Linked DNA regions of Homo sapiens. The protein of the gene in region 1 interacts with the protein of each later gene in a pairwise test. Each region holds a gene or a part of one and is shown on either strand. Other genes may lie near its edges. The genes, in order: OPRM1, CD302, TMBIM6 and SLC38A7.

What was found.
Region 2: the proteins of OPRM1 (region 1) and CD302 interact in binary tests that used the Homo sapiens proteins (3 or more experiments, as listed by UniProt).
Region 3: the proteins of OPRM1 (region 1) and TMBIM6 interact in binary tests that used the Homo sapiens proteins (3 or more experiments, as listed by UniProt).
Region 4: the proteins of OPRM1 (region 1) and SLC38A7 interact in binary tests that used the Homo sapiens proteins (3 or more experiments, as listed by UniProt).

What each region holds. Positions count from the first base shown.
Region 1 is NC_000006.12:154,034,985-154,042,268, reverse strand, and holds the start of OPRM1 (mu-type opioid receptor), read right to left. Parts: upstream 2,964-7,284; 5' UTR 2,911-2,963; coding exon of another isoform or gene 2,725-2,910; coding exon 2,435-2,724; intron 1-2,434. UniProt on the Homo sapiens protein: Receptor for endogenous opioids such as beta-endorphin and endomorphin. Receptor for natural and synthetic opioids including morphine, heroin, DAMGO, fentanyl, etorphine, buprenorphin and methadone.
Region 2 is NC_000002.12:159,795,180-159,802,692, reverse strand, and holds the start of CD302 (CD302 antigen isoform 1 precursor), read left to right. Parts: upstream 1-4,484; 5' UTR 4,485-4,494; coding exon 4,495-4,561; intron 4,562-4,740; exon of another isoform or gene 4,741-7,503; intron 7,504-7,513.
Region 3 is NC_000012.12:49,751,521-49,758,556, reverse strand, and holds part of TMBIM6 (bax inhibitor 1), read right to left. Parts: intron 6,094-7,036; coding exon of another isoform or gene 6,064-6,093; coding exon 6,008-6,063; intron 5,585-6,007; coding exon 5,476-5,584; intron 2,923-5,475; coding exon 2,802-2,922; intron 331-2,801; coding exon 282-330; intron 175-281; coding exon 77-174; intron 1-76. UniProt on the Homo sapiens protein: Endoplasmic reticulum (ER)-resident protein that confers cellular protection as an anti-apoptotic protein by limiting multiple stress-inducing pathways surrounding the endoplasmic reticulum and mitochondria.
Region 4 is NC_000016.10:58,664,573-58,667,770, reverse strand, and holds the end of SLC38A7 (sodium-coupled neutral amino acid transporter 7), read left to right. Parts: intron 1-283; coding exon 284-386; coding exon of another isoform or gene 387-465; 3' UTR 466-2,662; downstream 2,663-3,198. UniProt on the Homo sapiens protein: Symporter that selectively cotransports sodium ions and amino acids, such as L-glutamine and L-asparagine from the lysosome into the cytoplasm and may participates in mTORC1 activation. The transport activity requires an acidic lysosomal lumen.

The DNA.
Region 1 (7,284 bases):
AGACATACTTGCTTCAGTCCCCAGATGCTTTCCCTGTCGCTTCATCTGTCACTAACTTGCCCATTTTTCTGTTTCACAGTCACATTCCAAGAGGGTTACCTAACCCTGCGATTAAAACCCAGCCTGCCACAGGTGGGTGTTTGGGATGACCTTTCAAATAGTACTGCATTTTGTAAGAACTTTCAGTACCGAGAATAAAGCATAATAACATGTTCTCAGTAAGATGCACCGTCACCATGTTTCTCCAAGTCAACAAGAGGCCAGAGGTAATGCCTTTAAAACTAACTCACCCAACCAGCAACCTCTTCTACACTGGAATAAGACCAATCTGCTCATTTCACAGCCAGTTGCCACTCTATTGGCTCTCTCTGTATTGCAAAGCATAAACTAAAGGGTAGAAAAATGAGGAAGGAAAATATCAAGAAGCAATAAAAGGGAATAAAATATTATGTTTCAGATGGCAGGATTCCTAGATGCTTTGGTATTTTTGTTTCATGCTTTTTTCCTTCAGGATTTCACATAGAATTTGGGGATAATTTGTTATTCCCAAGTTATTATTGCTATATCAACCCACTCTGTCAACCTAATAGTCGAATTAACTCAAATCATGATTTGCCAGCACAATAAAAAAAAAAAATATGTTAGCTAGGAGAGATTTAGTGGCACTGAATTAATGAACTATCTGTTCTTAGAGAAAATAATTTACATTTTCTGTGCCTCAGTTTATTTACTTAGCATAGATAATCTCTAGAGTCCCTTCTAGCTTGATTAGTTTATGATTCTATGAATTTCTTTTAGAAAAAATGAGAAACATATTTTCCCTTCACAAAACAGGCCTTTAATTATAACTTTTATTGTCATAACTGCAAAATTAAACTTGGTTTTTAATCTTCAATGTGAATCATTGTATTGAATTACTTAAAGTAAATGTTTTTAAAAATAAATACTTCCATCGATCTTCTTGCATTTTTCCTTCTGTTGTTAGCCTTCCTCTCAATAGATGGTGCTCTTTTCTTACAGACAATACTTATCTTATTCCTCATCAAAAGATCAGGGAAATTAGCTTTACTCTTTAAAAATCATTAATTAAAGAAATCAGACAGATGAGTAGAAAGAATTGCTTATAAGCAATTTGCAGCACCTGGGTAATGAAAGCATACTGGAGAGAGCAATTCTTAAATGATTTAAGAGCTCCGCTGAAACCTGCAATACTTGCTGAATAGGTGAAACAAACATTGTAACTAAATATGAAAATGCCATGTTCCCTATATACACATACCCCTGGTTAAAAAAAAAAACCCTCGAATTAGGAACTATTTTAAAGTGTTAAAATATTTATCTTCTTTAACAAAAACAGATATATGGCATTTCACATTCACATGTAGTATTTGAATATACACATCAACACCAACACAATCAATATCAATCTCAGTCAATACTGAGAGCTTCCACACTCTGCCAAATATACCGGGAACATCTGGGTAAACAGAAAGTGGACTACAACTCTTTTGAATTAATTTTACTTGATAAGAACACTTTGTCTAGAGCACCCATCACAACTTCCTGTATAAGAGTTTCTGCAGTTTCTAATGTGGAATTATGATGCTTTTGGTCACTCCTAATTAGCTCCAACTTGTGAAGGCAATGAAATACAGCCATGTCCTGCGGTTCTCCTGAACCAACCTACCCATTCCAGATGCAGTTTGTGACTTAGGCGATCTGAAGCTACTAACGGCAAACTGGTCTAGGCAACACATTTGTCATGTTTGTTATAACAGAGGAAAACTGTCATGGAGAGATGCTAGGAAAACTTCCTCTACCTAGTGTTGCCTCAGGATGAAAGGAAGAGTTGGGTAAGGGCTGCTATGGCAGGGGAGAAGAAAGGGTGGGGTTGTGGTACAGGGAAGTACTAAACCAGCAGGAGTAGGAAAGTTGCCAAGGTCCATCTCAAAACAATTGAGAAGACTTGAGACTGCTCCCCCCGCCACACACACACACACCGGCCCCAACCAAATTTGGGAAAGCTAACTAGAATTTCTCTCCCATTATTCACAACTTACTCTTTCCATAGCTCCTGCAGAGGGACTGAGTGTAGGACTCTGCCAAGAGCCCTCTTTGCTCAGTATAAGGAAGCGCTCCAAGTCTATGCTATAGCTTCCCTCCGCCCCCCACCCCTAGACATTTGTAGCTTTTACCAAAGCAACTTCTCTGCTCCTGAAATTTTGAATTCTTTCTTTATCAGTTGAAGAAAAAACAGAAAAGTAGGTTTTCTCATAGAAATAACAATCACTGTCCGTGGTCTCCTCCAGAGTCCCCCCAGTTTACCTCCCCTCTTTCATCCTCCCGCCCAACATTGAGCCTTGGGAGTTAGGTGTCTCTTTGTACCCCCTTAAGCCGCTGAACCCTCCGCTCGGAGCCCTGGCGCTTTCCTTACCTGACAATCACATACATGACCAGGAAGTTTCCGAAGAGCCCCACCACGCACACGATGGAGTAGAGGGCCATGATCGTGATGGCCGTGATCATGGAGGGACTGCCGGTCGGAGGGCACAGGCTGTCTCTCCCGCCCAGGTCGGTGCGGTTCGGACCGCATGGGTCGGACAGGTTGCCATCTAAGTGGGACAAGTTGACCCAGGAACCGGGGCTGGGTGCTGGGGAGCAACTTGAGTACGCCAAGGCATCAGTGCAATTGCTGGCGTTCGTGGGGGCAGCGCTGCTGTCCATGGTACTGACGGCCGGGCGGGCACCGCTGTGCGAGGTAGCCAGGAGCACCGAGACTTTTCGGGTTCCAAGCGCCTCAGCCGCTTCCTTTCGCCGCTGCCACAGCTCCTGCTGTTTCTTACAGAAACCAGTCCTGGCTGAGACAGAGAGGAGCGTCAGGCGGAGGGGACCGAGCTGAGCATCTGACATTCTCCTCTGCGTATAGCCCCCTCCCACCTTAGTAGTTCACAGAGGCTCATCACCTGCCCCGCACCGCTGCAGGAGGGGAGCGTGGGCCATGCGGGATTCGGAGGCTGGAAGGGAGGGAGGAGGGAAAAGGGGTGGATTTTGCGCAAAGCGATCCAAGGAGTAGGTCTCTTCACTGGGCACTCTTCTGTGCAAACACATCTAAAGGAGGGAGATGGAGAGAAGGGTTGGGGAGAGAGATAGAGTTAGTCTTTGGTAGCAGTGAAAAATAAGAAAGGGGGCTAACATCACTCAATTTTCCAGCGCCTTTTTCTCCTTAAAATCTGGCAGGGAATACATTGGCTTGATGAAACCCTAACAGCCCTAAAACCCCAATGCTCTTCCATCCCTACTGCCAATTTTGATTATTTAGGAATGGGGGACACACAATTTTCTTTTGCAGTCCTTGTTGCCTCCGTTGCCAACATCTAAGAAAAGGTAATAATGTTTCTCCAATTTTCTTCCCTACAAACCTGTTGGGAACAACAGCGATCCTTTATTTTCTGAAAAAGAAATGAGAAACAAATAAACTTTTGTGCAGAAAACCTGTTCCTCATTTTCCCCAATTTCTAGGGTGAAGCTCTGTTTGCCTCTGATTTTGTTTCAGTGGGTAGGAGGCATAAGAAGTGGTTACAGAAATCAGAAGGTTGTGGCATCCAGTAAAGTCAACTAAAGATAATGTTGATCTTTCACATCTTAAATCTCATAGACCTGTTTGGAATTGTTTATCTTTTTTATCTGAAGACTTCCTCGATAGACATATGCTTCTGAGAAGAAGGTTGTTAAAACAAAACAAAATTTGCATTCAGTCTGTTTTCTAGTGTAAAAATTCTAGGAAAAGCCACATAATATATGGAATTAGAGTGGCCTACAACAAGATCCTTGAGAAACATGGATACGTTTTTGAATTTTATACCTTACTTCTAAGTCCATGAGTGCTTCTATTTTAGAAATAAATTTGTAAATACCAAGAGTAAGTTCTTGGTCTTTTTTTTTCTAAAGTTAACACCAATTCTGAAGTAATTCTCATTTCTGTACATGTATATATCTGTGCATGTACATATCTTTTAACCATAAACATTGAAAATACATGTCCTCAGTTGGTCTTGAAAAATTCACTGCAATTTCAGGGAGCAGGGAGGGAAGATCTTGAAAGGAACATTTAATTCCAATATTATTTTTTGGCATTTATCTTAGAAACAGATAACTCATAGGTAAACTCTATTAATCATAGGCTATTTTGCCAATGTTCACTATTATTTTTATCCTCTTACATTAAAGCATATAATTTACACAATAAAATGTTACAGAGATTTCCTAGAGACTAACAAAAATACCTTAAAACATATTCTTCCATGAACTAATGTAACAATTCTCTTATATTGAGCTGAAATCTGTCTGCCTGCATTCAGTTCCTTTGTGCTTAGTTCATGTGGAAGACAAGACACAGTATAATAATTCCTGACCTTGGAGTCAATCATTTTATAAATCAGCTTTGTAACTTTGTAGCTGTATGAGTTTGGACATGTTACTTTACCCTACAGGATGACAGTCTTCTCATTACTTAAAAAAGGCGAGGGTAGGCTAATAATATTCACCTCATATGTCTGTTAGCAGGATTAAATGAGTATACATTGCAATAGTAATTGCTTAATAAGTGATAACTCCTTACCACTATATTTCATATATTTGAAATCAACTGAGTTTTCTCTTTTGCAAGTTAAACATTAGCATCATTCAGTTGTTTCTTATAAGATGTAGTTCTGAGTCCTTTCAGTGGCCTTGCTGTTCATCTATTCTCATTATAGTTTGTCTATCTGCTCTGAAACTACAGTTCCAGTGTTAAAAATAATGACCTAAATTTGCCCTGACCAAAAAACAAACAACAACAAAAAAAGAAACTAAGCCAGATTATAAACTTTGTCTTTCTACCAGTACAATGAAAGTCCCTTTTTTTTTTTTTTAGTTTTATTTTTTGGTCACGTTGTTCTCTTGACTCTCCTTAGGTTTACCAATGACAAAATTTCCTAAACACAATCCAAGCCAGTTCCACAAATACTAAAGATCTGCTTTGGACCAGGTGCTGTGATAGGAGCTGGAGTTTAAAAAGATGGATACAATAGTGTTTGATTACGGAAACTTTCTTCTTATGCCTGGTGAATCATATGTTTCATCTCCTATAAATTTATAGTTGCTTTGGAGGGAGCTCAGTACAACACTATAGATTTTTTTACTTTTAAGTTACATCTTGTTAGATCCAATTCATGATTCTTATCCACCAAGATCTTTTGGAATGGTGATTCTGTCATCTTTTGTATGCATTTTTTAATATACTTTATTTACTCTCCTAGCTTTGTACTCCGTAATAAGGTTCCTAAGGGAGGTCTGCTCACTAACACAGTACTTAATACATAGTGGACTCCCTCCCTCACTCTCTGTGTTTCTTTCTATATTAAACATATATGAATATTAATGTGCATAATATTTGAATTCAGTTGAAAAAATGATTAGCATATATTTTATGCCATTATACCCAGATAATGGCATAAAATATATGCAATCTGGGTGATAAATAATATAAAATAAAAATAAAACAATCTGGGTGATTTTTTTAATGACACAGTTTGAAAATAAAACATCTTTATGGGAAAACCTTAATGAAGACGTTTTGTCCTTTTTGACTCAATATAGTCTGTCAACCAACCAGGACTTAAATGTATAGACTTATGGACTAGCCATATGCCTTTTCTTCTAGAATTACAGGCAAAGAGCAACCCCATTCCCATTGCCCTTTTCTAGAAACAGTTGTTTTTTTATTCTGTTTTATAGAAAAATGCAATTACTCTCTAGAGCAGGACTTGAACTTTGTGCTTCATATTCTCAGCTGAGATTGATTTTTTTGTTTTCTATTGGTCTTTATCATCTTTCAGTGAGGATAGTTATTATCCTTCTATTTTGAATATAGAATATTCTGGTTATCATTGCATGTCCTTCCTTAAGTTGTTTAACATTTATATCTTGGTATCTTCCACCCATTTAATATACAATTCAGGAAGCTGCAGAACAAATTTAATTTTCTTTCAAATATATTGACAGTCTTGAGAAACCTAGAGAAAAACTGTTCCAGAAATAATAAATTAATACCACTTAATATGTAGTATAAAAGCACCTCAATTTCAAGTTTTTGTTATTTCAGAGTTTCCCTATGGTATATTCCCTGTTTCCTCCATAATTGTTCATTTCCTACTCAATTGGTCTGAAGTCTGTTGTGAAAGTTCAAGTCTCTCATAAAAGGAGATGGACTGCAAATAAATGAGTCAATTTATTACAAACATAATTATTTCATACAGTATTGATCCCAAATATATCTTTTATTTCATTGAGCCTTAATATGTAATTTGTACAATAGAAATATCTGTCTTTTTGTTGATGCTTCTTGCTTAGCCCAGGCTTTCTATTCGAAGCAAGAATAATTTATTATCTATACATTTAGATTGAACATTGCTATCAAACCCATATCATGCAACATTTTTCACAAAAATTATTTGTTTCAAAGCAACGTATTTATTCATAGCACGGATGAATCCCAGGAAAGTGCTAAAAGTCACTTCTCTTCTTTGAATTTCAACATCTATTGGCTTAGTTATTCATAGAATTGCCTTCATCCTACACTTACTTTAATAGCTTAGTCCTGATTCTGTTGAGAGTGGCTGTTAATGGAACACATGATTAATGGCTATTAATGAGGAACACAAACATAAATACTATGCAGGAAACAATTACAGTGGTTTGAAGCTCAGAAAAATGGGACATCCAAGGTTTCATTGGAGGAACATTTTATGTATTTGTTTATAGATATTTTCTATGTTATCTAACTTTTAAATGGGCATAGCTAATGAGAATGCAAATGCATTGTGATACAATATTATCCTTGATCACTGGATTGTTGCATACATATCAAGTAAAATGGAATAGGCACTCTTTATTTGCATGGTAAAAAAATAAATAAGTAAATGAAAGCAAAAAACTCCTCACACCAACTTCTACCCAATAAACCTAAAACAAAGCCATCTAGAATAAAGTGGATGAAAGCCCCGGACTTTTGATTAAAAAAAAAGCAGTTCAAAATCCAGTCTCAACTATTTACTTCCTTGTGACTTACTAAATTACTTATACTTCCTGATATTTGGTTTCCTTTTCTGTAAAATAAAAATATGAGAATCAACTTCAAAGAGGGTTTATAGGATTACACACATATGAAAGAATTTATCCTTTGTTGTTTGGCTTTTTATATCCTGTTGTATGTGGCCTAGAAATTAGCAAGAAGAATTATTATAA
Region 2 (7,513 bases), on another chromosome or scaffold:
AGGTCAGGAGTTTGAGACCAGCCTGGCCAAATGGTGAAACCCCATCTCTACTAAAAATACAAAAAAAAAAAAAAAAAAAAAAAAAAATTAGCCCGGTGTGGTGGTGCATGCTTGTAATCCCAGCTACTTGGGAAGCTGAGGCGGGAGACTCTCTTGAACCCAGGAGGCAGAGGCTGCAGTGAGCTGAGATCGTACCATTGCATTCCAGCCTGGGTGACAGAGCAAGACTCTGTCTCAAAAAAAAAAAAAAAAAAAAAAAAAAAATTGAAAGGGAAATTAGGAGATGAGGAACATGAGATTTCGAGAAGTATGATGGAGACAGAAAGGAAAGGGGCTGGGCCATAGCCAGAGGGGAAAGAAGGGTTGAAAAAGGGTTTTTTTCTAAAGGGGAGAGAAAGAGGTTCACAAGTTTAGAAGCTGAGATGAAAAAAACAAAAACAAAAACAAAAATAATGGACAGAGAGAAGTTGATGATGCAGTGGGGAGAGGGAATCATTAATGGAAGATCTTGGAGAAGATAAAATGAGAGGGGCAGTCCTAAGCAGAAAGAGGAACTGGTTTGGGTGGGCTGGAGAAGCATGCCTTCCTCTCTGAGACCACAAGAGAAGAACTGCAGATAAGCATTTGAAGATGTTTGTCTATATGTAATGGCACCTGTTTTCTTGTGTACTAGAAGGCAAGGTCTGCTGAGAAAGATGGGTAGCAGATGGGGTCTTTTAAAAAGTTTTTTAATTTTTTAGAGACAGGGTCTGTCTCAGTTGCCCAGGCTGGAATGCAGTGGTGCAACTCTAGCTCACTGCAGTCTCGACCTCCAACATTAACTTTTTTTTTTCCCTAGAGACAGGTGATTTCAATGTTACCTAGGCTGCTCTCAAACTCCTGGGCTCAAGTGATCCTCCCACTTCAGCCTCCCAAGTGTTGGGATTACAGGTGTGAGCCACCATACCCAGCCTGGGATCTTAGCTTGAAAAGAGTAATAAATTTGAAAGACTCAATGAGAGAAATAGGAGAGGACAGTGACTAAGGTAAAATCAAATACAAGGATTGCAGAAGAGGCATAGAAGGCCCAGATGAAATTAAAAGCCATATTGTTTATAGTGACAGCCATCGGGAGAACTGATTGATTTCCTCCACCTGTCCTCAGTTAACTTCAGTAAAGTTGAGGAAAAAGAGAGCACGGGCCAGGCGAGGTGGCTCATGCCTGTAATCCCAGCACTTTGGGAGGCCAAGGCGGGCAGATCACTTGAGGTCAGGAGTTCAAGACCAGCCTGGCCAACATGGTGAAACCCCACCTCTACTAAAAATAGAAAAAACTTAGCCAGGTGTGGTGATACACGCCTGTAATCCTAGCTACTCGGGAGGCTGAGGCAGGAGAATTGCTTGAACCTATAAAGTGGAGGTTGAGGTGAGCTGAGATAGCGCGACTGCACTCCAGCCTGGGGGACAGAGTGAGACTCCGTCTAAAAAAAAAAAAAAGCATGAAGAAGAAAGCGGAGACCACAGATTCCGAGTTGGCCAGGTGAGCACACCAGGGGAACAAGGGGACAGAGGATGTGGTATTTCGGCTGGGTGGAGAAGGGAGAAATAAAAGGCTGAGAAAAATGCAGGCAAGGGACTGAAGTCTGGCATGAGCCAAAAGAGGATGTAAGTTGGAGACAGAGTGAAGGAAAATTAAGGGTATGAGGTGTAACTGGAGAGTAAATGGGAGAGCGAAATATAACAGTACCCACATACAGGCAATAAGTAGTCTATTTCATCAGATTAGCATCAAAAATGAGGCAGTGTGCACCAGAGTTAACAATAAAATAATATAATTTTCTTTAGTACAAATGACTTAAAATGACAGTGTTAAAATGGGTTTTGCCTTAATTAGATTGATTCATTAGGATGTCAATTCTATTGTAAATATAAAAATATTTGAAAAGTAGCTTAACACAAAACCACATTGATAAAATATACTTTGGTGCCTGAGGTGGGGGTGGAAGAGATAACTTTCACAATTACATGATTGCTTAGAACTGTTCATTTTACTTCTGTAGTTAGGAGGGCAAAAGGGTCCAGAATCAAGATGTGTCAATATTCCAATATAGAGTATCTTTGGAAGGATTTGCTCTGGTCTGGAGTTTGGTATATAATAAACTCAGTATTGGCAGCCTGAGAAGAAAAATGGAAGTAAATAAGTTAAGCAAGACCTTAATACTTTGGCAAAGGGGCAGAACCTGGAATAGGTGGGAGAGTCCAGCAGAGGAGCTGGGCTCTGGTTCATTTGTTGGCATTCTCTGTGAGCCCACGGGGGAATCACATCCCTTCTTTGGGTCACTCAATTTCCTTACTAGTACCACTTCTAACACTCTATGACTCTCCTTATAGACCCCTTGGGTCAAATTTCCTTGGTGTAACCACTCTGGATTATCAGAAGTGTGGAAAGGGTTAGAAAGAGTTGGAAAGGGTCAGATTTTATTTTTTTAAAAATAGACTAATTTTTGAGCAGTTTTAGATGTATACAAAAAATGTAGCAGAAGGTACAGAGCTCCCATGTACCTCCTTACACATACCCCAGTTTCCCCAATTATTAACATCTTGCATTAGCAGGTACATTTGTTACAGTGGATGAGCCAATATTGACACATTATTAACTAAAGTCCATTGTCCACACTAGGGTTCATCTTCGTTTTGTGCATTCTATGGGTTTTGACACATGTATAGTGATACACATCTACCATTACAGTATCCTACAGAATAATTTCATGGCTCTAAAAATCCTCTGTGTTCCATCTATTCATCCCCTCCTTCTTCCCACCCCAACCCCTGGCAACCATTTATCTTTTTACTGTCTCCATAGTTTTGCCTTGTCTAAAATGTCATATAGTTGGAATCATATAGTATGCAGTCTTTTCAGATTGGCTTCTTTCTCTTAGCAATACATATTTAAAGTTCTTCCATGTCTTTTTGTGGCTTGATAGCTCATTTAATTTTGGTACTGAGTAACATTTCATTGTTTGGATGTGCCATTGTTTATCCATTCACTTATTGAAGGACATCTTGTTTGCCTCTAGGTTCTGGCAATTATGAATAAAGCTGCTATCAACATTCATGTGCAGGTTTTTGTGTGTATGTAAGTTTTTAACTCATTTGGATAAATACCAAGGAGTTGTGATTGCTAGATGGTATGGTAAGAGTACGTTTAGTTTTGGAAGAAGCTTCCAAATTGTCTTCCAAAGTGGCTGTACCATTTTGCATTTGCACCAGCATTGAATGAGAGTTCTTTTTGCTCCACATCTTTGCCAGCATGTGGTCTTGTCAGTGTTTTTGGATTCTGGTATCTAATAGGTATGTAGTGGTATTTCATTTTTGTTTTCATATACAATTCAGCAATGACATATGATGTTGAGCATCTTTTCATCTATTTGCCATTATATAACTTCTTTGATGACGTGTGTATTCAGATCATCTGACCATTTTTTTTAACTGGGTCATTTGTTTTCACGTTGTTGAGTTTAGACTTGATTTTATAGAACTCTTTTGCCAATGACATGAGGCTTAAACAAGCACCCTTGCTTGACCCTGGCTAGTGTTGTCCAGAGGCCCTCATGGGTGAAGTATAATTGCACAGTTTATGCATACATTGTAGCAAACATAGCTTAAAGACTCTTCATCCAGGAGCTGGTAACAGAGAAAAGTTGTCTAAGAGACATAGTCCACTGAAAGGGGTCTTTGAAAAGGAGGATTCTGGCCAGTAGATCCAAAGAAGAAGGCTGGCAAACGCCACCTTAACCAACTGATCCAAGTTAACATCAGTGATGAGACATCGACATCTTGTCCTTCTCGAGCACGTACATCACTTCTGGGGAACTCTTTCCCAAAAAAGCGCAACCTGAATCCAATTAGAAGGAAATGTCAGACAAAATGAAACTGAGGGACATTCTACAAAACGACTGGCCAGTACTTTTTAAATGTGGTTTGATCGTGAAAGAAAAAGAATGACAGAGAACCGTCCTAGATTAAAGGGAGACTAAGGAGACACGACATGCAATGTATGATCCTGGATTGAATCTTGGAACAGAAAAGGACCCTTAGAGGGGCAATTAATGAAATGTGGTAAGTGCTGTAGATTAGCTAATCGCATTATCCCAGTGCGAGTGCCCTGTGTTTGATCACTGCACTGGCGTTATATACAATGTCAATATTTAGAGAAGCTGGCTGAAGGGTTACGGAAATCTCTTGTGCTGTTTTTGCAACATTTTCGAAAGTCCTAAATTATTTCAATTCAAATGAAAAGTTTAAAAAACAAAAATTAGAAGTTCCAGAAGGCCGCGCGCCAGCCGCTCCTGCGGGACGGGACACCCGGGTTCTCCTGGTGGGAGCCCCCAGTGCCGTTCACGTTCCGCCCGGGGGGGGGATTAAACTCGCACGCGAGAAGCACCGCCCCCGCTCCCGCCCCGCCCCGCTCCTCTCCGGCCGCGCAGCCGCTGCCGCCCACCCGCACCCGCCGTCATGCTCCGGGCCGCGCTGCCCGCGCTCCTGCTGCCGTTGCTGGGCCTCGCCGCTGCTGCCGTCGCGGGTAAGCCCTTACGTAGTCCCTCGCCGGGACCGTGCGCGACCGCCTTCGCCCCCTTCCCAACGCACGCTCTTCGTCCCCGCGCACCCGAGGGCGGCCCGCAGACGCAACACCCGGCCGGCCATCCCGCCCTTCCCTGCACGCCCGTCCCCCGTGGGTCCTGGCTCCGGGTCACCTCTCACCCGCCTGCCCTCGGGGAGGGGAGGTGGCCGAGAATAAGGGAGGGCTCTGTCTTCCTCGGAGTCCACATCCTCACCGCAGACCCCACTCCGCGGGGAGGGAACCCCCAAATTAGGCCAGTTGGCCGGAGAACTGAGGGACTTGGAGTCGCACGACGGGCGCCGTTTCAGGGCAATTTCGGGCTGAAATGAGAAGCGGGGACGTTGGTGGCGATTTCCCCTGCTGGTGCGCGGCCGGAGTGGGGTTGCTGGGATGGGGGTGGGGGCCGGAGGAAGTAGGCCCTCTTTTGCAAGCAGCGCTGTTTGTCTAGTTGGTTGGTGTTCAAGTTGTTTAAACAGGAAAACAGTTCAGCCAAATAACCCCTGGATGGAAGAGGAACGGGAATAGGCAAAGCTTGGATTTCACTGAAATCAAGGAGTTTTAAAGTTCTAGTCTGCTGTTGTGCAAGTGACATCTGAAAAATCACACACGTGATCATTCATTTACAAAACGACTCGTGAGGAAAATGCACAATTCTATTGACCGTGGTCTTTATTTTTAAAAAATTTCCATACAAGCATGTCAAAAATATGTGGATGGGGAGACTCTGGAGAACACAGACTTCCAAAAACACCACTGACTGAATAATTCCAGGAATTAAAGAGCAAAATAAACAAGAACTAAATGAGTACTTGTGTGGGCTTAAATAAAGTGCAAGAGATTTAAATAAAATGCAAGAGATTCCCCCCCCCCACCCCTTGCCCCAGATTTCACTGCGTTTTTATAATAACTGCCTGCTCGAAGTCTACTGACAGGAATATTTCAGTGGACCTCAGTGTTGGAGGCAGCAGCAGCTCAGAACTTGGATACAAACCCAAGGTTCCTTTCTTGAAAACTTCTGTGGACCTGCATTTATGACTGGTTGTGACATCTGCTGCCTATCAAAGGGGCAGAAACAAGATGTGCCCATGTTCACATTGTTCAGACTGGGAACATTAATTTTGTCTAAGACAAAGCTGGGCTGTCTCTGAACCCTCCTTCTGCACACCCTCATTTTGCGAGCCAGTAACATCTCAACTCTCATGTAAACCACCCTCTGCGAGGCTGTGCATTTGTACTTTAGGCTAGTCGAATTTTCTTGTCAGATTTTTCTTTCTTGTCAGACTTTTAAAGAAAATCAGTTTCTAGATTTTGGTATGTCTCTTCTTCAGTGAAGCTGTTTTGACCAGCAATAGAGGGCAAATTTCCCTTTGGAAATTTTTGTGCATTTCCTTTGATAAGTCCAGTGTGGATCAATAGGCTTTTCAAGAGCTTTAGAAAAGTGCATGATGAATAAATTAATGTTAATTAATCAGCTCCTCCCAGTCAGGAAGCTTTAAGGATTAATTTGGAAATGAGTGTGAGCTTTGACCTAGCTAGTTAACCAACTTATCTGCACTTCAGTAAAACAGAGATAATACTTACTCATGGGGCTATTGGGAGCATTAAGTGGGAACTCCACGTCTAGTCCCTATTACAGGCGTGGTTCATCTTGGTTTCCTTCCCTTTATTCTCTTCATACAAAATGAAGGGTAATTGTTGCAACCAGAAAACGTATGAATACCACCTTATGTATATTGGATGTTTATGGTTACTGAACACATTCATATGTATGCTAATGTTATAGGGCTGAAAAACTAAGTGTGTTTTTCATAATACTTTACAAATCTCCCATCCAAGCAAGATCAGGGGTCATATTTGGCTTAGAACTAAGTCAAGAAAGAGTTTGTTGCTGAATACCAAGATCTTAATAGAAAAGCTCTTATGATGTTGCATAATAAATATGGGTATTGCATATAAATGTGATGTTGAAACGGAAATCATTGTTATTGTCTGTCATTCTGGAGGTTATTAGTGAAGTGATCTTAACCTTGTTCTTAGCTATTATTTTGAAAATCACAGTGGACAAAACATTCTTTAAATTCCTGAGTGAAAATCCATGGCATCGCTTTAAAAAGTTTTTCCGTAAGGGTGCTTAAGCACATAATAGATGATCAGTATGTATTTATTTGGTCAGTGGTTTCCTATGCCTGGCATGAGCTGAGTGAACAAGCATGTTCCGAGTAAGTCCTCATTCTGTGATCATCATGTGGATCAGAATCTAGGGATTTTGAATTGCCATGTCCTACAAGCCTTAGATGAGGTGCCTCTGCCTTCTTCCCTGATGTCATCTCTTACCACCCTTCCTGCCATTCACTCTGTGTATCCACAGAGTAAACAGTATCTGGGTACTCCAACACCTCTGGTCCTTCTGTGCACACCACCTTCCCCCAGTCCTTGGCATGGCTGCCCCCACCTCCACCATTCAGATCTCTGTTCATATGTCACCTTCTCCGAAGCCTCCCTGAACACCCACATTCTCTGTCACATGTCCATGTTTTATCTTTTCCAAGCCTTTCTGAATGCATTGTGTTTATTCATCTGTCTTGCTTGTTGCTTCTCTTACCAGGGGAAAGAAGCTCCATAACAGAGATTTTACCATCTTGTGGATTTTTGTTTTGTTTTGATTTGTGTCTCTGCACTTTATTCTAAGTTATAATAAAAGGATGAAAAAATTTAGGTGAGTTATTTAAAAAGTAGGTAGGATAAGTGGATTGCAATTTTTTTCAAATTATATTACCTCTGCTATGCACTCATTTCATAATGAATTCAAAGCCTTAAATCATCTTAATCTATTGCTGCCACCTTTTCTTTCTTTCTTTTTTTTTTTTTCCGAGATGGAGTCTCACTCTGTCACCCAGGCTGGAGTGCGGTGGC
Region 3 (7,036 bases), on another chromosome or scaffold:
GGGGTAAGGAAGGAGTACTAGTGAGAATTCTGGCTAAAAAGGAGCCCCCATTCCCTGTTTCCCAGTTCACACTTACCTCCCAGAAAGAGGTAGCTACGGCGCCTGGCATAGAGTGCACTGAGGGTGAAGCAGGTAAAGATCATTGCCGTGCCCATGAAAGCAGTGGGAAGGATGCTGTTAGAAAAAAAGACCATTAGATTAAGGGCTACAGGTATACGGTCTACATTTAGAAGGTATATTCATAAAGATAAAAGCACATAAGACACTACCAAAAGAGTTACCTGGGGTTGACAGCAATACAAAACTCCAGGGCAGGGCCCAGGCCAACTCCTAGAAAACAGAAAACCCAGAACACAGTATTACGATCAATTCTTGAATAGGATCCTCATCCAAAAGCTGATCCCGAAATATAGGCATACTCATGCTCTTAACAAACGTGGACTAAAGAATTAAATCTCTCTCCCCTCCGCTGTAATTGTTTTCAATAAAATGTATACCTGACTGCGTTGTTTTTTTTTTTTTTATAGAAATAGCTGCAAAATTGTCCTCTTAGCTGAAAATCATGGATGACCTCAGGGAGGGTACAGAGATTACAAGAAAATAAAGTAGGCATGCCAAACATTTCAGAGCTAGAGTGATGTAAGATGGTAATATAGGCCAGATCAGGAATTAGAAAAAAAGGATAAAGAGCAAAACAGTGCCTCGTGGCCAGCAACCTTATAGTCATGTAGGACTGACTCCCCTTTGTAGCAAAGAAAGGTGAGACTGGTTCTGCAGGTGGACACCTGCCAACAGGAGGGCAACCTGTTCCAGCTCTAACATTTCTTTCGTTCTAATTACTTTCCTCTTTCCTTCTGATAATTCCACCCCTTAATGCCTTCAAAAACTAGCTTGCCCTGATGCAAAAATTTTAATCCCTAAATCTCTTCCTTTCTAAAATTTCTCCTACGTATATTAGACTGTCACTCAGAACAAGCTGTTCTAATTCAAATGTTTTGCAAACATTTTTATTACATAGCTTGAGTCTTGTTTCCTTTATGACAATTCTAGAAGAGCTGTGCCTTTCTTTTTTTGAGAATCAGCAAAGTGTCCTGCACAATAGATCTCAATGTATAGCTTTAATGCACTGTCTGTAAGACTCAGAACAGAAGCTCCTATGATAATTGCCAGTATGGGTGCAACTATGTCGGATTCTCAAGTCTAGTTTATTAAAAGTTCTATGCCTACTATTAATAGGTTATGCTACCTAAGCTCTTGAACCTCATTCATTCAAGTACACAATGGCTATTTTTGGACACAAAAGTAGAGTCACAGTGGCTACTCACAGAGTTTCCCCTAATGGATGGGGAAACAAAATGAACCTATATGAGATTAGAAAGCAGGCCAGGAAGGCCAGGCACAGTGGCTCACGTCTGTAATCCCAGCACTTTGGGAGGCTGAGGCAGGTAGATTACCTGAGGTCAGGAGTTCGAGACCAGTCTGACCAACATGGTGAAACCCCGTCTCTACTAAAATACAAAATTAGGGCCAGGGGCAGTGGCTCATGCCTGTAATCCCAGCACTTTGGGAGGCCGAGGTGGGCGGATCACGAGGTCAGGAGTTCGAGACCAGCCTGGCCAACATAGTGGCCCATCTCTACTAAAAATACAAAAGATTAGCTGGCGTGGTGGTTGATGCCTATAATCCCAGCTATTCGGGAGGCTGAGGCAGGAGAATCGCTTGAACCTGGGAGGTGGAGGCTGCAGTGAGCCAAGATCGTGCCACTGCACTCCAGCCTGGGCAACAAGAGTGAAACTCAGTCTCAAAAAAAAAAACAAAAAAACAAAAAAAAGCGCTGGGTGTGGTGGCTCATGCCTGTAATCCCAGCATTTTGGGAGGCTGAGGCGAGCAGATCACGAGGTCAGGAGATCAAGACCATCCTGGCCAACATGGTGAAACCCCGTCTCTACTAAAATACAAAAAATTAGCCGCTGTAGTCCCAGCTACTTGGGAGGCTGAGGAAGGGGAATCGCTTGAACCTGGGAGGCAGAGATTGCAATGAGCTGAGATCTCGCCACTGCACTCCAGCCTGGCCACAGGGTGAGACTCCATCTTAAAAAAAAAAAAAAAAAAAAAAGCCAGGAGGCAGGGTACTATGGCTCACGCCTGTCATCCTAACACTTTGGGAGGCTAAGGTGGGTGGATCACTAGGTCAAGAGATCAACACCATCCTGGCCAACATGGTAAAACCCCATCTCTACTAAAAATACAAAAATTAGCCGGGCATGGTGGCACATGCCTGTAATCCCAGCTATTTGGGAGGCTGAGGCAGGAGAATCGCTTGAACCCGGAAGGCAGAGTTTGCAGTGAGCCAAGATCACGCCACTGCACTCTCTAGCCTGGGTGACAGACGGAGACACTGTCTCAAAAAAAAAGGAAAAAAAGGGCCAGGCACGGTGGCTCATGCCTGTAATCCTAGCATTTTAGGAGGCCGAGACGGGCGGATCATGAGGTCAGGAGATCAAGACCATCCTGGCTAACACGATGAAACCCCGTCTCTACTAAAAATGCAAAATATTAGCCGGGTGTGGTGGCAGGTGCCTGTGGTCCCACCTACACGGGAGGCTAAAGCAGAAGAATGGTGTGAACCTGGGAGGCGGAGCTTGCAGTGAGCCAAGATCAAGCCACTGCACTCTGGCCTGGGCAACAGAGCGAGACTCTGTCTCAAAAAAAAAAAAAAGAAAAAAAAAGGGGGGGGAACTAATTAAGAGATACTGAAAATATAGCTCACCCCTCAAAATTAGACAAATCCCTTAACGTACCTGTAAGGAATGCAAATCCAGCAAGAAGTCCCAGTCTTTTCTGTTCAGTTTCATGGCTATGAGGTGTTGCCATCAGCCAAATCATCAATATCAGGGAGCCCAAGGCAGACAGCAGGCCAGCCTGTTAGAGTCAGAATCAATCAATCATTAAACACTTGAAAGTTTCAAATTTATTTTGCAAGAGACCTTTATTGGGTTCAAACACTCGTCTGAACTTCCTAACATTTGCTTATAACCTGGAGGCAGGAGAAAAAGTAGTGTTTTCTCAGGGATGGGGCTGAGGAGATAACCCAGAAGCCTTGAAGCACAGAGTTAGGACCATGGTGGATGCTGGAGGCTCTTCTGGCTTGCGTAGTCCTTCAACTACAGTACAACTACCCAAGTCAAACTATGAGTGAGTCTTGCCCAAAAAATAGAAAGGATGAATGAAACGTGACAAGTGCTTAAAGTACATTCCATCTGTAGAACAAATAGAAATGATCCCCCTTTGGTCACTTTAAAAAAAACATGGTGGCTCACGCCTGTAATCCCAGCACTTTGGGAGGCCGAGGTGGGCAAATCACCTGAGATCAGGAGTTCGAGACCAGCCTGACCAACATGGAGAAACCCCGTCTCTACTAAAAATACAAAATTAGCCAGGCATGGTGGCACACGCCTGTAATCCCAGCTACTCAGGAGGCTGAGGCAAGAGAATTGCTTGAACCCAGGGAGGCAGAGGTTGCAGTAAGCCAAGATCACGCCATTGCACTTCAGCCTGGGCAACAAGAGTGAAACTCCGTCTCAAAAAAACAAAAACCAACAAACAAAACCCCCAAACACCAAAACACCAAGACACATACATATACAGAAGACTGCAAAGTACTAAAATGTTAACAGTAGTTATTTCTGGATGATGGGATTATGGAAGTTTCTAAAATACTTCCTTCTCATTGCTAGTCTGTTTTCTGAATTTTCTAAAATGAACACATATTAGCTTTGTAGTAAGAAAAAAGTGTTTCTTTTTTTAAAAACGCCAAGTGGGAAAAACTATAGGCATTAGAAAAAAGAGAAATCATTAAGGATGGACGTAGACACTGAAGTTCCTTCCTTCCTTTAAAGGAAGAAGTTGATTCTCATTATTCAGTGTTTATGTTATAAAATCACAGTGGACAATGAATTAGTAAACCCTTGTTCCTGAGGGAAATAAAAGGTAGGTAGGTTCCTGCAAGCCTAAGGTCACAACATTTTCATCAAATGATCAATAGATACCTTGCTTTTATATGTGTTTCTGTTTAAGGACACCTCATTTGACATTATTTTTGATTCCTTAACATTGAACTCACAGTTACAACAGCAGTACAACTCATGCCGGAATGAAGCTTATCTAATATACACATTTTCTTCATAAGGCACATTACGGTCTTTCTGCACTCAGGAATACTAGACAGCACTTCAGCACTATGCTGTTTGCATTCTGAACAGCAAAATTAAGCCAAGCATGGTGGCATGTGCTTGTATTCCCAGCTACTTGGGAGGCTGAGGTGCGAGGATCAATTGAGCCCAGGAGTTTGAGACCAGTCAGGACGACACCACAAGACCTCCACTCAAAAAACCCAGCAAAATCACCAATTAAAAGCACAAAAATACAAAGGAAGTGGCACTAAATGACCATGAAAAGAACATTTGTTTACAATACGAGAACTGAAACAAGAAGGCAGAGCACTGTCTTGTTCAACCTCAGCTGAAAACACTGCAACAGCAGGGTGACTCAACTTTTTCACCACTCTGTGACTGTCTGCAAAAAGTGCCATGAGTAACAGAGCGAGACTCTGTCTCAAAAAAAAAAAAAAAAGTGCCATGAGTATTGATTTTGGGGTTACAAATTTTAATGAGTAGGTGAATTCACAAATATAGAGTCTGTGAATAACAAGGATTGACTGTATTTTACTAAATTATTTAAGGGCTAACCTTGCCTAAAACTCAAGCGATCAAAGCCCTATCCTTTGAGTGTCTAAAGTAATTTTTCACACAATCCCTGCCAGGAGATGCCTGAACATAAGGATAGTTCTCAACAGTGGCAAATGCCAACAGAGGCCCACCTCTACATTTATGCTAAAAGGAATACTCTACAAAGGCACAAGACTATGTTAGGGAGTCTTCAAACTTTCTGGTTATTCCTCAAACTGTACCTTCTACTCCTGCTGACCAAACCCAGATTCTCTCTCAATACAGGAAAACAAATTGTTGAAGGTTTTTACCCAACCATGCAGACAACAGTTATCGGAAAATAAAACAGGTCAATTCCTTAAAAAGATCTCAATCCTGCCTCTCCTGATAGTTAATCACACAATCAGAGTTTTGTAAAGGAAGAATGGAGGAAAAGATAAAAAAGCTTCTGTGCCAAAGAATCCCAGCATGCATGCCATGCGCCTACTCAGTGGGTGGGGGTCTTGTACGTCAGCAGCACACCATTCAGTGCCAAGGTTAAGGCATTCTGTTTTTCGGTATCTAGAGGGGGCACAGTTGCCAGAAAATTAAAATGGCTTTACATGTCCTGATTTAATGTCTGAGTTTAAATCCTAAACTACTGATAAAGATTAAAGAGAGGAACAGGGTCCCTTGGACCACCTTGCTGAGCTGGTTTTTTCCTAATGTAATTTGTACCACAGCAACCAGGAGAGAAAATCGTTCTTACCTGAATGAAATGAGTGACCATATGGACATAGGCCCCTGCAGCCGCCACAAACATACAAAGGGCAAAACTTGCATAGACCTTCTTCAGGTGCTGCTGCGTTGACGGGGTTCTAAGAAAAGAATGTGAATAAGAGCAATCAGTCCCAGATCAATCTCATATTTAAGCTAAGAAGAATCATTTCTCTCTTTCCCTTCCTGGGAATATGTAAAAGTTCTGTTACAAATAGTTTGAAATACTTTTAGGAAAGCATATTACAATAAAAAATAATATTTTGAAAATAGGTTAACAGAACCTTAAATGCTGAGGAAGACCAAATGCCCAAAATTATGAATAATCAGTACCCAAACTAGAATAAATGCCTTTCCAATAACCACACAGCAACGTGTAGAATTTGGACATTTTCATCAGGTCCTCTGGATTCTGGCCAAGTTAATTTGTTAGCTTATACACACAAAAGTTATAAATGCAGAAAAGGGACAAAGAGATATGAAAAGAAATGCAGTACAAAACCAGTCAAGGTCAAAACACTTACATATGAGAAAATTTTAAAAGCGCATCAAAGTTGATCTTTCGATCAAATATGTTCATGGTTCCAGAGTCCGTGCAGCAGTCTCCACTCTGCAGAATAAAGAAAGGTTAGAGTCATTAAGTCATACAGAATCACACGAACAGCTTATAAAAAAAAAAAAAAGCAACATGTAAGTTCAGAAAGATGAAAACTTGCCTAAAATTCTACAGCCCTAACACAACCATTTTTATTTTTATGTGTCCTACAATATATTTGCAATCATAGTCAACCATCTTAAAGACGACAGAGGAATTGAATGCATCTTCTTCTCCCTCAAACTATTTTGTTACTATCATCTGATTTCTATTCTTTCAGGTGATTTGCCACTTTAAAAGGCAGTAAGTTTATAAAAGAAATTCTCAATTAACAATCTAGTTAAAGGAACCTAGACATTGGCACATAAAGCAATTTTATGTCATTGTTTCAAGATGCTAAAGAATTCCCTTGGCTGGGCATAGTGGCTCACTGAGGCCTATAATCCCAGCACTTCTGAGAGGCTGAGGTGGGCGGATCACCTGAGGTCAGGAGTTCGAGACCAGCCTGGCCAACATGGTGAAACCCTGTCTCTACTAAAAATACAAAAATTAGCTGGGTGTGTTGGCACACACCTGTAATCCCAGCTACTCAGGAGCCTAAGACAGAAGAATTGCTTGAACCTGGGAGGCAGAGGCTGCAGTGAGCCAAGACACGCCACTGCACTCCAGCCTGGGCAACAGGGCAAGAGTCCATCTCAAAAAAAAAAAAAAAAAAAAAAATTATCTCACTAGCAGCACCTCAAAGATAAAAAACAAAACTTTGACTAGTCTTAACAAAACAAACAAAAACTATAAAGCTGGGTCTGGCATTAAGACTTGCATTTTAAATATATGCGTATCAAATTTTCTTAACCTAACACATTTAAGAACTGAACTGAAAAGGACTCACAATTTTAAAAAAAGAGAGGTTCCTACCTCCATAAAAAAGGAATTTATGCAGAAAGGAGGATTTTTTGGG
Region 4 (3,198 bases), on another chromosome or scaffold:
ACGTGCTTTTTTCTGAACATCTTTCCATCAGGATGCCTACATTCGAATCGTGGCATGATGTGAACAATCAGTTACTCCCATTAGATCTTGGTCTTCTTACCTATGGACTAGGGACAATACACCTGGCCCCACACTACCTTTGTATTGAAGTCTTTGGGAAGTAGGAAGTGCTCTACCAACAGGAGAAGTGCGATAATTACAGTAATTAACAGTTATATATATTGAAGTCTGCAGTCATGGGATGGGATGACTGATCAGACCTCTCTCACCCTCTGTTCTACAGCTGGTGGGTGCTGGTCAGCTACGGAGTCCTCTTGGTCACCCTGGGAGCCTTCATCTTCGGCCAGACCACAGCCAACGCCATCTTTGTGGATCTCTTGGCATAACCACTGCCTCCCAGGGAACACAAGGCCTTTGCCATTGGTCGCAGGAACCCATCTCTTAGAGCTATGGGGCCATTCTTAGTCCACGATCATTCCAACTGGTGGGATGACATCCGGACATCCTCTTCCAGGGACTGGGGCAAACTCAGGCCCCACACCTCTGGACAGCTCAAATCCAGTCCCCTTCCTGCTCCCCAGTCCTGGCAGTGCCGTGGATGGCGGCAGGAAGTCTCACATCATAGAGGACCCCTCCTCCTCTCCCAGTTCTCAACTTCTCCATGCCTGGAATCCACGGGTGAAGAGAGTCGGTAGATCTCATAAGAAAGAATCCAGTCTGACTTCCCTCTGGAGAATGACTATGGACAGAAGGCCACCATCCTCCACAGAGCACCCTGTCCTGAGTAGGGGTTGTGCTCATTACCCCAGGCCAGTGGTAGCTTCCTCAGGAGCCTGGCCACTTCCAACGGTAGCACTGAAGTCATGCAAATGCATAGTCAGGTAGATTCAGACCTTGTCCACACCTTCCTGGGCAACCCCCACCATGAACCTGTCAGCCTCTTTCCCATAGCTAATAGACATTTCCCAGGCCTTGAGGGGCCCCACCCTGTCTCTTTCATCAAACCTGATGGTCCAGGCTGGGCATCCCTCTCCTCCTCCATCCCCAGACATCACCAGGTCTAATGTTTACAAACGGTGCCAGCCCGGCTCTGAAGCCAAGGGCCGTCCCGTGCCACGGTGCTGTGAGTATTCCTCCGTTAGCTTTCCCCATAAGGTTGGGAGTATCTGCTTTTGTGTCTGAGATGGGCCCCTCTTTTCAGAGGCCGCAGGGTGGGTGATGGAGAAGGCTGAGAACCTTTCAGACCCTCTGTGTGGGCTGGGCTGGTCAGAATCAGGGTGTACCTCCCCGACACCTTCTTTTTCAGTGATGTTTTCTCTTCTTCCTGCCTTTCCTCTGCCTCCTCCCCTGCCAGCCCTAGCGTGACTACCCAGAGACAAAAAAAAAAAAAAAAAAAAAAGGCAGGGCTGGGCGCAGTGGCTCACGCCTGTAATCCCAGCACTTTGGGAGGCCAAGGCGGGCAGATGACTTGAGGTCAGGAGTTCGAGACCAGCCTGGCCAACACGGCAAAACCCCATCTCTACTAAAAATACAAAAAATTAACCGGGCATGGTGGCGGGCACCTGTAATCCCAGCTACTTGGGAGGCTGAGGCAGCAGAGCCGCTTAAACCCAGGAGGCAGAGACTGCAATGAGCTGAGATCGTGCCATTGCACTCCAGCTTGGGCAACAAGAGTGAAACTTCATCTCAAAAAAACAGAAACAAACAAAAAGGCAGCTGGGTTGTCACTGATGGGCAGCATTTGAGCCTGCCACACTGGCCTGGAAGTTTCCCTTCCAGTCTGGATTTTGTCTGCTCCTTCCTTCCCCCTCACCCCGTTACCTCTTCACCTCCCATCTCACTTCACTGTGTAGCTCAGTCTCTCCCACGCACATAATTGGGGACAGTGGGGGCTCTCTTACCAGCCTCCTCAGCAACGCACGTCCATCAGGCCTGGCCTCAGTGGCCAGCCACATTGATGTCACACTGGAATTGTTACCCCAGAGAGGGCGAAGAGATAGGCTATCTCCCCACCTCCCACCCTACTCCCCACTATATTCCCGTTTTGACCACCTCAGCCCCTCAGCTGCCCCCTCTCACTTTGGCCAATCCCAGGCACCAATCAGACTTCCTCCTCCACCTGGAGCCCCTAGCATTTCCTTGTCCCCTCTTCCCCAAAACCTCTGTAAAGGGTACGAGAGGGACCCCCTGCCGAGCCGCCCGCCACTCAGGGCAGTCCGATCTAAGAAGCAGAAGCTGGTTGGAGGCTGGCTGGGCCTCTGTCCAGTCCCCAGATGGATAAACTGCCTTTTCTCACATCCCCTCTTGGTGCCTGATCTTCTCTGCCCCCGGGGCCAGACCCACTGTGCTGTTTTCTGTCAGTCTGTGGCACAGCACCAAGCTCTGCCAGCACCAGTCCCTGACAGGGCTAGGAGGACAGCCTGGTCAGCAGGGCTGCAGTCCCCCAGTGCCGTGTTTCGGGGGTCAAGGGATGTAAGTGGAGTCATTGCACAGAGACAGACCAGTCAGGAGAAGGAGCTGGAATCTGGCCTCTTGTCCTAACCTCAGGAGCCCCCTCCCATCCTCTCCCCACCCTCCCTATCGGGGTACTTCACTGTTTCTTTTCTACTTGTGTATACTCGAGAAAGGGAAGATGGTTAATAAAAGGGATTTGTGCTGCTGAGCCGTGTCCCCTGTGTCTGATCCTGGGGACAGAGTCCAGGCCACTGCCAGGAGGAAGAAGGGCTGGGGTAGGAGGTGTAGATGGCATGTCACTGTCTCTGACCCCTATCTCCGGAATGGCACCGCCATGCTCCCTCTACCAAGCAGGGACCTGCAAGTGGCTCTTGCCACCCCTGCTTTCTTCCACATTCTACCTATCCTTCTCCAGTGACTTAGGAATGTATCGCAGTCTCCAATCCTGCGACCTCTGCCTTCACTTAAGCCCTCACTGTCTTTCCTGTGCCTTTGTGGTCTCAGACTGTCCCCCTGACTTCAGATCTTGGCAAGAGCTTTAAACTCCTGAGTATCCACCCCCATCTTTTCAGAGGCGAGCGTTGAGCAGGTCCCAGCTGTCTTGGTTATGGAGCCACCAGTCACCACGCTCAGTGCTGGCAAGAAAACCAGCAAAGGCCAGGTGTAGTGGCTCACGTCTGTAATCCCAGCACTTTGGGAGAACAGGGTGGGCAGATCACCTGAGGTCAGAAGTGCGAGACAAGT